Linked DNA regions of Homo sapiens: region 2 is linked to region 1. The links come from fine-mapping of genetic effects on gene expression. A gene starts in region 1. The other region holds a variant in brackets. All regions are shown on one strand. Distances are from middle to middle.

Region 1 (5,376 bases):
AATCAGGTACAGATATGTAGAAAGCAACTGAATAAAAAAGAAAAAACAAAACAAACAAACAAAAAAACGTGATTCAGAAGACACATAAACAAAGAATTGAGAATTATTCCAACAGAAAGGTCTGAACAATCATTCTAAGGGACTAGAGACATAGAGAAAAGTGATCTGAAAAGTGAAACTTGGAGAACGCATATTAAAGAGGAAAGAAGAAACAGAAGGCAGAAAAGTGGCGGAGAGGAACAAAGTCAGTATAATGTCACAAAAGGCCCCTCTTCATCTAGTTAATAGTTAACTCTTGCTCATCCTTCACAATCTGCCTGGGTTCCAACAAAGCAATTTTAAGGTATCTTTCCCAGATTCTCCCACCACCACAAGCACCAGATCAGGTCTCCATTTGAAGTTCTTATAATATTCTGCACCTTAATTAAAATCACAATTATATTTAACTAGAGACTTTATTTTTCAATAAGTATTTCCCCACTAGACTTTAAGCTCCATGAGGGAAGGATCTGTTGTATCTTACTGCCTTGGACCCTGTGTTAGAATACAGCGAGTATAGATGAATGAAACCCAAGGAGAGGCATCTGAAAATGTGAAGTCGATGTTAAATCTTACAGAAAACTCAAGGAGAGGACTTAGAAAAAGGTAGTTAAATGTGTTGATTAGGTTATAGTTCCTTGTGAAGGTGAAATCCAGATAACAAGGGGTTAAGAAATGAGTGGCTAGCCACCAACCAGGCAAAGGCAGGAAAAGCAGACTACACTTGGCAATCTCTAGAGATGGATTGTGAATGACTAAATTTTAATTTCAATGTTGCGCTAGTTCGCAATTAACAACCATGTGTTACTTTTATTACGAACAAGCTTTTTAAAATGTTAATAAGATTTGAAAAGGAAAAGCAGCAACAAGACAGCTTGAAGGAGTAGCAGACTTAAGAAAAGGTTTTTGTAAACTGAAAAAATCTTAAGAACATTTGTACTTTAAAGAACCCAAATACGACAGAGAAAATAACTCACGCTCCACTAAGCAGGAAAATTAGAAGGAAAGGAAAAAAACCCCAAGGTGTTAACTAATAAGAAAGACAAAAAAAAAAAAAAAAATTCTCCCTCTTTGACGGAAGGTTAAGAAGCCAGTAACAGAAGGAATTTAATGAAGGAGCTCCTGCTAAGTGCCTCAACCTCTTCTGTAAAGGGTGGGGAGAAGTGAAGAAAGTAGAAAAAGTTTAAAGTGGGCTCCACGGAAAATGGAGGAAAAATTAAACAAGAACTGAGTCTGGTTCTACTAAAAACGCATTCTACATTTCAATCGGCCTTTCATACACTCACCCCATTCCTAGATCAGAGAATTGCCCATATTTTAGCTTCAAATTTAAAAATCTAAATAATTCTGGTTCACATTCTTTATTTCAACAACTGAAAACAATGAGACGCATTAAGTTACACTCTAATTCAAAGTTTAACTCCTCTCACAAGTAAATACAATAAAGTAGTTGTTTTCAACTCCAGCAACAAAATAGCGATAATTTCAAGTAAGAGTAACTGAAAAATGTTCCTAAACGTAAAAGTGTTTGCAAACAGTTTTGGTTTTTTTTCTTCCTAATTCGTTTGCCAGAATACGATGTTCCTGGGTTCAAATCCCAGCTCCCTTAGACAAGTTAGTTAACCTCTTTGCGACTCGGTTTCTTCCCCTAAAACAATGAGGAATACAATAAACCAGAATCGTTGTAAGGATTAAATGACGTAACACAGGTGCCAAGTTCATACTATGTACTCTGAACAGTTTGTTAACCGCTTAAAAGAGAAAACCTGCAGGAGTTTGACCAAATTAAAACATCTGAGAGCATGAAAGAGTACCACGCTCAAACGCCAGACCCTAACACACAGCATATTATTTTTCTTCCCTGACGCAAGCTCATTTTTTTTTCCTTGCCAAATCTTTCCACTAGGAGTCTGGAAAGAGAAAAAAGGGTCCAGGCAATCCAGCAGAAAGTTTTCCAAAACTGAAGTACGGAATCACCAGGCCACGGAGCGGAGGCCGCGCAGGACAACAGGTGAAGCAGCTCCGGGAGCTCGGGGGCCAGGGCCCCTTCCCGCGGGGACTCGGGGGCGGGCCGGCTGCTCCTCTCACTCGACCCCCGCCCGAAACTCATTTTGTTCTCCCCTGTTCCTCCCCACAGCGTCCGGAGCCAAATCACAAATATCAGCCTCGCCGCTCCGGGGCGGGGAGGTGAGCGCCTTTCCCATTTAAGGATTCCAGAAGCGTCCCCGGAGCGACTTTCGCCCACTCCGCATCCCCAAACTCGGCCTGCAACCCGCGAGTGGGAGACAAAAGAGGGGCCGGCGGGGGACGCGGCGCGGGGTGCCGTGGGTCTCTGGCTGGGCGGTCCCGGCCCAGCGCGCGCCGAGGCCTGCGGAGCTGCCGGGGCCGGGCCGGGCAGCCCCTGGCTCCGGCCACCGCGCGCCCAGCTGCCTCTGCAGCCTCGCCCGAGCCCCTCTGGCCTCCCCGCTGCGGCCAGCCCCTCCGGTCCGCACGCGCACTCCCAACTCACCCGGACCCCAGGGAACGCATCCTCCAGCCCTCGGCGCGGAGCGGGTGGGCGCGGCGAGCCGCCGGGGCGAAGTGGGGCCCGAATCGGCCTTCGCCCTTGGCGTGCAGCGGCCCCGACCCGGTCGCCCCTCGATCGGGCCGTGCGATCTTCGCCGCGCGCGGACGGACGCGCCGAGCCTAAGCCTTCCTGCCCGCCCTTGGCCCTCCTCCCTCCTCGCTCCTGCCTCCTCCCTTCTCCTTCGCCAAGCCCGGCAGGCGGATTCCAATCTCTGCAGCGGCCGCCGCCACCGCCGCCGACTCTTGCCAGGAGGGGAGGGGGCGGCGCGGGTGCGGGGGCCTGGGGGAGGGGCGGGCGTCCGCGGGCCTTGCACGGCGCGCGCGCACTGGGAAGGCCCCCGCCCGCGCCGCGCGCACCCGACCACGGGCGCCTGCCCCGCCCCGCCCCGGACACGAAAAGAGCCGAGCGCACGGCGGAAGCGCCCGAAGAGTTCGCGGAGCCCGGCGCCCAGTTGCCGGGGAGGAGGGCCAGCCGCCGGCAAGGGGGCGCCGAGCTGCTGGTGCGGGCGGGAGTCGGGGCTGCTCCTCCGCGCGGGCCCGCCGGCCCCTCCCCACAAGCCAGCCCCACAGCTGCCGCCCGGGTAGCTTCCCGCAGACGCCGTAGGTAGCACGCGATGGAACGCGGCGGAGGGGAGCGTGGACACGGCTGCCGGGCGCTGCGGCCATCGGCGCCCTGGACGCCCGCTCCGGCCTTCGGGGCCGGATATCCCCACTCTCGCGGGCTCTTTCGCGTGGACCCCTCCTCCGGCCGACACTCACACTGCGGTGAACGCCAGTCAGCTGGCGTGAAATAAGGTCGCTGGGAAGGCACCAAGTCACCAAGGTGGGGGATGGCCAGGTCGTGGTAGTTGCGACAAAGAAAAATATAAGTCACATTGCATTTGTTTCTCGCCCACCCACCGCTCCCGGCGTCTCTTCCCGGGCTCCTTGCCAGCGTGCCGAGGCGCAGGCAGGGTGATGGAGGCTCCCCGGCCGGGAGGATCTGCCGGGGAGAGCGGCTTCCCTCATCGATTCGGGAGCGCCAGGCCCGGCGCGCCCGGGCTCCTGTGACCTGCGAGCCCGCGAATTCCAGCGGCATAAGATAAGGAGCGGCGAGGGCCCAACAGGACTGAGGTCAGCCAGCTATAAATACGCCTCCAGCTCCACCGCGGGCTCACGCTGGTGACCTCGTGTACCCTCCGGAGGCTCATTCCGTCCATTTGGAAAATGCAAATAATTGTCACCACCTCTTTTCTTCCATTTCCCCTCATTCATGGTGGAAAATGCTTTTAAAAGTATTCGATGACCCGTATGTGAGGAAAGAGGAGATAGGCCCCTTTTTCACCAAATGTGACTTTAACCTCCTTAGTAATCCAAGAAATGTATCAAGTTTAAGTCACTTAACAAAAGATGTTCTTTTAAAGGTGCATTTTAAAAAATCACTTTTAAAACTGGGTAAACTGGGTAAAAAGAAAGGGGGAAGGAAAACAATGTGCCAGGCATTTGTATTGACACACATTCTTGCCTGAAGAGGTGTTTAGATTCCAGGGTATTCCCTTATATTCTGGTATAAATGTTTGAATTCCCGTGTATTTTGTTTCAATTTTTTGGTTTATCTTTTATTCTGTCTCCCTTTTCTTCTTTTACCCGCCTTTGCCCTTAATGCTGCAGATAGCCTCTGTCATTCTGAATTATTTTTCAATTCTGTTTTCTTCCCTAATCTTTTTTTCTGGGCTCTTCAGCTGTCTCAGGTTTGACAGTCATGGGTTGTAGTATCTTGCTATGCAGGAAGAAGAGGATACGTGAGATTACTTGCATCAACTAAAATTGGTCACTTTTCTTTCTCAAGTTTCCTTCATAATACCCAGTTTTAGTTTTTTTGTTTTTTGGGGTTTTTTTGTTCTTTTTTTTTTGAGACGGAGTCTCGCTCTGTCGCCCAGGCTGAAGTGCAGTGGCGCCATCTCGGCTCACTGCAAGCTCCGCCTCCTGGGTTCACGCCATTCTCCTGCCTCAGCCTCCTGAGCAGCTGGGACTACAGGCGCCCGCCACCACGCCCGGCTAACTTTTTGTATTTTTAGTACAGACGGGGTGTCACCGTGTTAATAGGTGTTCTCGATCTCCTGACCTCGTGATCCTCCCGCCTCGGCCTCCCAAAGTGCTGGGATTACAAGCGTGAGCCACTGCGCCCAGCCCCAGCTTTAGTTCTAAAGGAAAAGATGGGCCTTTTGCTTAAGGAGATTCACATTGATTGGTCAAAGCTCTCATTGACGTATGCTGAGCAATGTGTCGGCAGAGAAAACCATGGCAAGCGTGTTATTATGCTCTTTATAGTCTAGTTGGATTTTTAGACATATGAATTGGTCTATAAAATAGACAACAATCTCAGGTGGGAACCTTAGTACATCAAGTTTCTGAAATGTACAAATGAGTATTCCCTGGCTTGTGTTATCTGCCACTGTAGAAATGAGAGCAAAATTGAAGCATCAAATTTTAAGTCGTGATATGTTTGCTTCTCTGCAAAAGACTCTCCTTTTCAAATCTTCAGGAATTTTTCGCTCTCCTTTGATAAGGCCCAGCTAGTACCCAGGCTTCAATCCTCAGCGCCCTGGCTACCAGCAGCTAGTGGGGCATGCTGTTCTCCCTGGCTACTGGCATGTTTATGCATGCCAGCCCGTTTCTCCGGTCTGTCTGCCCAGGGAGACATCTGGACACGTGTGTTCTGGCCCCCAAACTCAAAAGCAACATCTCGGGATCCACAGTTAACATTCCGTAATGTGTTGGTATTCCTTTAAG
Region 2 (5,376 bases), 170 kb before region 1:
GAGATGGGAGTGATTTGGGCGGAGCCCCAAACTCAAACCCAGCCCTTGAGACATGTTGGGGAGGCAAGGGTTGAAAAACTAACTGTTGGGTACTATGTTCAGTATGTGGGTGATGGCATCAATCATACCACAAACCTTAGCATCACACAACATACCTAGGTAACAGATCTGTACATGTAGCCCCTGAATCTAAAATAAAAGTTGAAAAAAAACAATAACAAAAACCAACCCTAAAACAGTTCAACCATCACCACAAGGAAAAAAATAAACACACTTGGGGTCACTGTGTGCCAGAACTCCAGCCCTGCCGTCAGCCCTGAACCCCAGGTACACAGCAGCTGCTGGGCCTCTGGAAGCAGGGAGCCCCCATACTCTGACAAACATGCCCTTAACAAACCCACAGGGGCCAATCCCAAGTTGTCTGCAGAAACCACAACATAATGTCAAAGTCACTCCTACTGTTAGATTTTATTTCAGAAGCAGTGTGAAGAGGCTACATAGCTCGTGACATGTTGCTTAGAACTCTCCTTTTCTCAGCCTCTGCACCCTGTTATGTCTTTAGCTCAAAAACAGAAAAGCTCTCCCTGCTGTAGCCTGAGCACCACCCTCCTTCCATCCCCTCCATCAAGAAAGCTCCCCAAACCTGGCTTGACAATTACTCAGCTCTCTTGGAGCGGGTAGTGGACGTGGATGAATGCAGTAGGGAAAGCCAGAATCCTTTTGAGAAGGAAAGGGGAAATGAGGCCAGCATGGTGGCTCATGCCTGTAATCATAGCCCTTTGGGAGGCTGAGGCGGGAGGATCGCTTGAGGCCCAAAGTTTGAGGTTGAAGTGAGCTATGACTGTGCCACTGTACTCCAGCCTGGGTGACAGAGTGAGACCCTATCTCAAACAAACAAAAAACCCAACCACACCAAAATAACAATTAGCAAAACTTCAGTAAGGTCTATAGATTATGGTATTGTTGGTCATTGCTATTGTATCAATGTGAACTTTCCTGGTTCTGATAATTGTACATAATTGGTTAAGTAATAGAACATCCCTGAAGTATTTAGGGATAAAGGGGTATTAGCTCTGTAATTTGCTTCTAATAGGTCAGAAAAAAATGTGTGCATACACGATACATGGACATTACAAACATTACAAGATGAGTCTCTGTGATTCCTGTACACACACACACAGAATGACAAAGCAATTGTGCAATGTTAGCAGTTTATGAATCTGGGTGAAGGGTAAATGGCAGTCCTTATACTATTGATGAAACTTTAATGGAAGCCTGGAATCATTTCAAAATAAAACATTTGGCTGTTGAAATAAACTCAGATGGGCTGACAAAAGTAGAAGGTAGGATGAAACATATGAGAAGCATAGTAACAATTATGGAAGAAACATCTAGGGGACCTGAGATTTGTTCTAGAAAGTTCTAGAAAGAGAAAAGGAAAAGAAAGAAAAAAGGGAAGAAACAAAAGAAATAATGGGAGAAAATTTCCCAGGTCTAAGAAAAGATCCCATTAGTACTAAGAAACAGAATGAATATATTTAGATATGGCCAGTTTCAACTTCCAACATCAATAATAAAAAGAAAATTCTATTTCTTGAAAATAAGTTAACCTGTATAACATGTCACTTATTAGATCCACATCAGACTTCTCACTGGTGACAAGGGATGCTAGAAGATCATGGAGTATCATCTTCAGAGTTAGATTCTATCTCCAGCTGAACTCCTAGCCAAGTATGAGGACAGGATCAAGTAATAAAAATTGCTTTTGAAATGTCTTGATTAAAATCCCTCCCACAGCAGTGTAGGTCTTTCAGTGGAGACTTCCAATTTTTTATGTTTTTCAACACTGACCTGCATTTCAGTCATACAGTAGAGCAACAGATGTCATCATCTGGATTCTAAACTGGCTTTTAAAAATGGCTCTTCCATTAAAGAAAAACAAGGGGGCCCAATATTTTCTTCACATTGCTTGAATATATATATATATATGTGTGTGTGTGTGTGTGTATATATATATATATATTTTTTTTTCTTTTTTTTTTTTTGAGAGACGGAGTCTTGCTCTGTTGCCCAGCCTGGAATGCAGTGGTGCGATCTCAGCTCACTGCAACCTCCGCCTCCTGGGTTCAAGTGATTCTCCTGCCTCAGCTTCCCAAGGAGCTGGGACTACAGGCGAGTACCACCACACCCAGCTAATTTTTGTACCTTAGAGACAGGGTTTCACTATATGTTGGCCAGGCTGCTCCTGACCTCAGGTGGTCTGCCCGCCTCAGCCTCCCAGAGTGCTGGGATTAGAGGCATTAGCCACTGCACCCAGCCAAAAATATTTTCAATATAAACATTCCATATTGATTTTCACTTTGAGCTTCCTGCATAATGTTTAGAATGTGAGCCAGGCATGGTGGCATGGTCCCAGCTACTCAGGAGGCTGAGGTGGGAGGATGGCTTGAGATCAGGAGTTTGAGGCTACAGTGCGTTATGATTATGCCTGTGAACAGCCACTGCACACTAGCCTGGGTGACAGTGCAAGACTGTCTCTAAAAAAGACAAAATTAGGATATAAGCACTGAGGTGGATGTAGCGACATTGAGAGATATGGAATTGACTTAGATTTCATTTGAACAAAGACCAAGAAGCTGCTAAGATTCAGAGGAGCAATAGGTTGATGGAATATGTGAATTAACAATTCCTATGTCAAAAGGAGATTATGGGCTGGGCGCAGTGGCTCACGCCTATAATCCCAGCACTCTGGAAGGCCAAGGTGGGCAGATCACCTGAGGTTGGGAGTTCGAGACCAGCCTGGCC[C/A]ACATGGTAAACCCCGTCTCTACTAAAAATACAAAATTAGCTGAGTGTGGTGGTGCACGCCTGTAATCCCAACTTCTCAGGTGGCTGAGGCAGGAGAATTGCTTTAACCCGGGAGGTGGAGGTTGCAGTGAGCTGGGATCACCCCATTGCGCTCCAGCCTGGGTGACAGAGCGAGACTCCACCTAAAAAAAAAAAGAAAAAAAGATTATGAATGAACCTTTCAGCCCTAGTCCTTGCTCCCTTCCAAAAATATTTTTTGTATGTGCCACTGCACTTGAAATAAGCCGCCATCTGGATCCCAGCATCGAGGTGACTCTCCCACTTCTGCTTATACCAGCACTCACACATTTAAGTCTCCATGCCTGCAGCAGTGCCGCTGATAGTAGGTGGCCTCTGCTCACTGCTGGCCACTTTCAGCGGTTTATGTCCACCCAGTCAAGACTGTATGCTCCAAGCGCTGAGCCAAGGCTGTGTAGGAGCGTGCACCTAACTTGATATAAGGATGACATGTCAGAAATGGTCAATATGCTACTACTATCAGCAAATGTTTCTCCAAGTGAAAACTTAGTAACTGACTTACTGTCTGCTTGAAACTATCTACAAGGATTAAACCTATTTTGGAAGAACAAGGATTAGACAATTCTGTTTCTTAATGTCTGCTCTGTTAATAATATTAAAGAAACCTTGGAATGGAGCAGTGAGACTAACAGATTGCTGGAAAGGAGAAATGAATACATTTATTCAGTGTTTCCACAGACAGAAGGAAAGCTGGCAAGCATTTGCAGTTCCCAGAAATCACTGAGTCTTCTTTACCAGGCTGCATCAGAGCGCCTGCGATTATTCTGAGAAACTTACAATGACACTGAACAGAGACTCCCGTGAGGAATCTGTAAGAGGCTATCTTCAGACACGCATTTCTTTTGAGGAACAATAATCAGTGCCACATCGCGTCTGTGATTTAACATGTTCAGTTCCCTAGGAAAAGGCAGCAGAAGGCACACTGCTGGGATGAATTCACATACACCTGAAAACAGCCCTGACTGGCGGTGGGACTCAGTGCAGGTGGGAAAATGACAAGAAAGTATTGCACAGGAGGAGGAAAGCTATCCAAGGCTTCACTTCCCATTGCAGCAGGAGCATCTTAAGGCCAGGTAAATGCATCCCATCGCTCTAAGCTCATGAACTGCTAGCAGGAATGAAAATGAAAAGCTTTGTGAGTAGCAATATGGCAATGTTTTCCAAGAACCTTAGTTTTTCCATCTTAAAGGATCTTTTAAAAGTTCATATCCACTAGTCTCATTTTCAGAAATGTAATATAAGAAAATAAAGATTTATGTATAAGGATGCTTAATATCTATTTTTCAAAACAATGAAAATAATCCAAATATTCAATAGGGGATTGAGCACAGAAATTACTCCATCTTCTTAGTCAAATATTGTGCAGTCATTAAAAAAAAAGTTCTCAATGGCTATTTAATGGCATACTAGGATCCTAATATTACAAAAAATGCAACATAAAAAAGAATAAGGCCGGGTGCAGTGGCTCACTCCTGTAATCCCAGCACTTTGGGAGGCTGAGGTAGGCAGATCACTTGAGGTCAGGAGTTCGAGACCAGCCTGGGCCAACATGGTGAAACCGCATCTCTACTAAAATACAAAAATTAGCCGGGCGTGGTGGTGCACACCTGTAATCCCGGCTACTTGGGAGGCTGAGGCAGGAGAATCACTTGAACCCAGGGGGCAGAGGTTGCACTGAGCCGAGATCGCGCTACTGCACTCCACCCTGAGTGACAGAGCAAGACTCTCTCAAAAAAAAAGATTGAAAAGAAACACTCAAATGTATATAGTGATAATGTCTGGCAATAGAATTTTGAGTGATTTTTATTTGCTTTATTATTTGCTGTTGTTTCCCAAATTTTCTGCCATGAGTACATTTCCATAATCAGAAAACAATGTTTTGGCCAGGCATGGTGGCTCATGCCTGTAAGCTCAGCACTTTGGGAGGCCAAGGCAAGTGGGCCACCTGAGGTCAGGAGTTCGAGACCAGCCTGGCCAACATGGTGAAACCCTGTCTCTATTAAAAATACAAAAAATTAGCCAGGCATGGTGGCAAACACCTGTAGTTCCAGCTATTCGGGAGGCTGAGGCAGGAGAATTGCTTGAACCCAGGAGGCAAAGGTTGCAGTGAGCTGAGATCGTGCCATTGCACTCCAGCCTGGGCAACAAGAGCAAAACTCCGTCTCAAAAAAAAAAAAAAAAAAAGGAAAAAGAAAACAATGTTTTGTCTTGTTTTTTAAAGGAAAAACCCCTGCACCGTGATAGGTTTAGAAGTTCTCTATCTCCACAGGGCAAGCGTGTACCTACCTGTGCTCCATACTGGGTTTCTGGTAGTTGAAGTGTACATCTCAGGAACATATGTATATACACTAACTTAATCATTACAAAAATCTCAACAGATGACTTCTGATGCACAATACCGTCTGAGTGTAGCATCACAAAACACATCACTAAAGTATACTAAAATAAGGTTATTTACTTCAAAATGATACATTGGACATAATCTGTATATAG

Direction of the effects. Alleles are on the strand shown, and positions count from the first base shown. SD is a standard deviation of normalised expression in the study named.
In carriers of allele A in region 2, the expression in prostate of the gene that starts at base 2,849 in region 1 tends to be lower than with C alone (small effect, 0.36 SD a copy in GTEx).

What was found. PIP is the estimated chance that this variant, and not a neighbour inherited with it, causes the effect. A credible set is the group of variants that fine-mapping cannot tell apart.
Region 2: its variant is the best candidate, but not a certain one, in a credible set for the expression of BMPR1A in prostate (GTEx, PIP 0.86).

The regions. Positions count from the first base shown.
Region 1 is chr10:86,754,092-86,759,467 of GRCh38, reverse strand. It overlaps BMPR1A (bone morphogenetic protein receptor type 1A), which reads right to left and starts at 2,849. Exons shown (of 13, transcript NM_004329.3): 1 at 2,549-2,849. RefSeq lists a silencer at 2,367-3,336.
Region 2 is chr10:86,927,912-86,933,287 of GRCh38, reverse strand. It overlaps BMPR1A (bone morphogenetic protein receptor type 1A), which reads right to left. Exons shown (of 13, transcript NM_004329.3): 13 at 5,319-5,376. Among named protein-coding and RNA genes, the nearest start is that of MMRN2, 27 kb to the left of the region's middle. The variant C/A (reference allele first, on the strand shown) is at 2,806.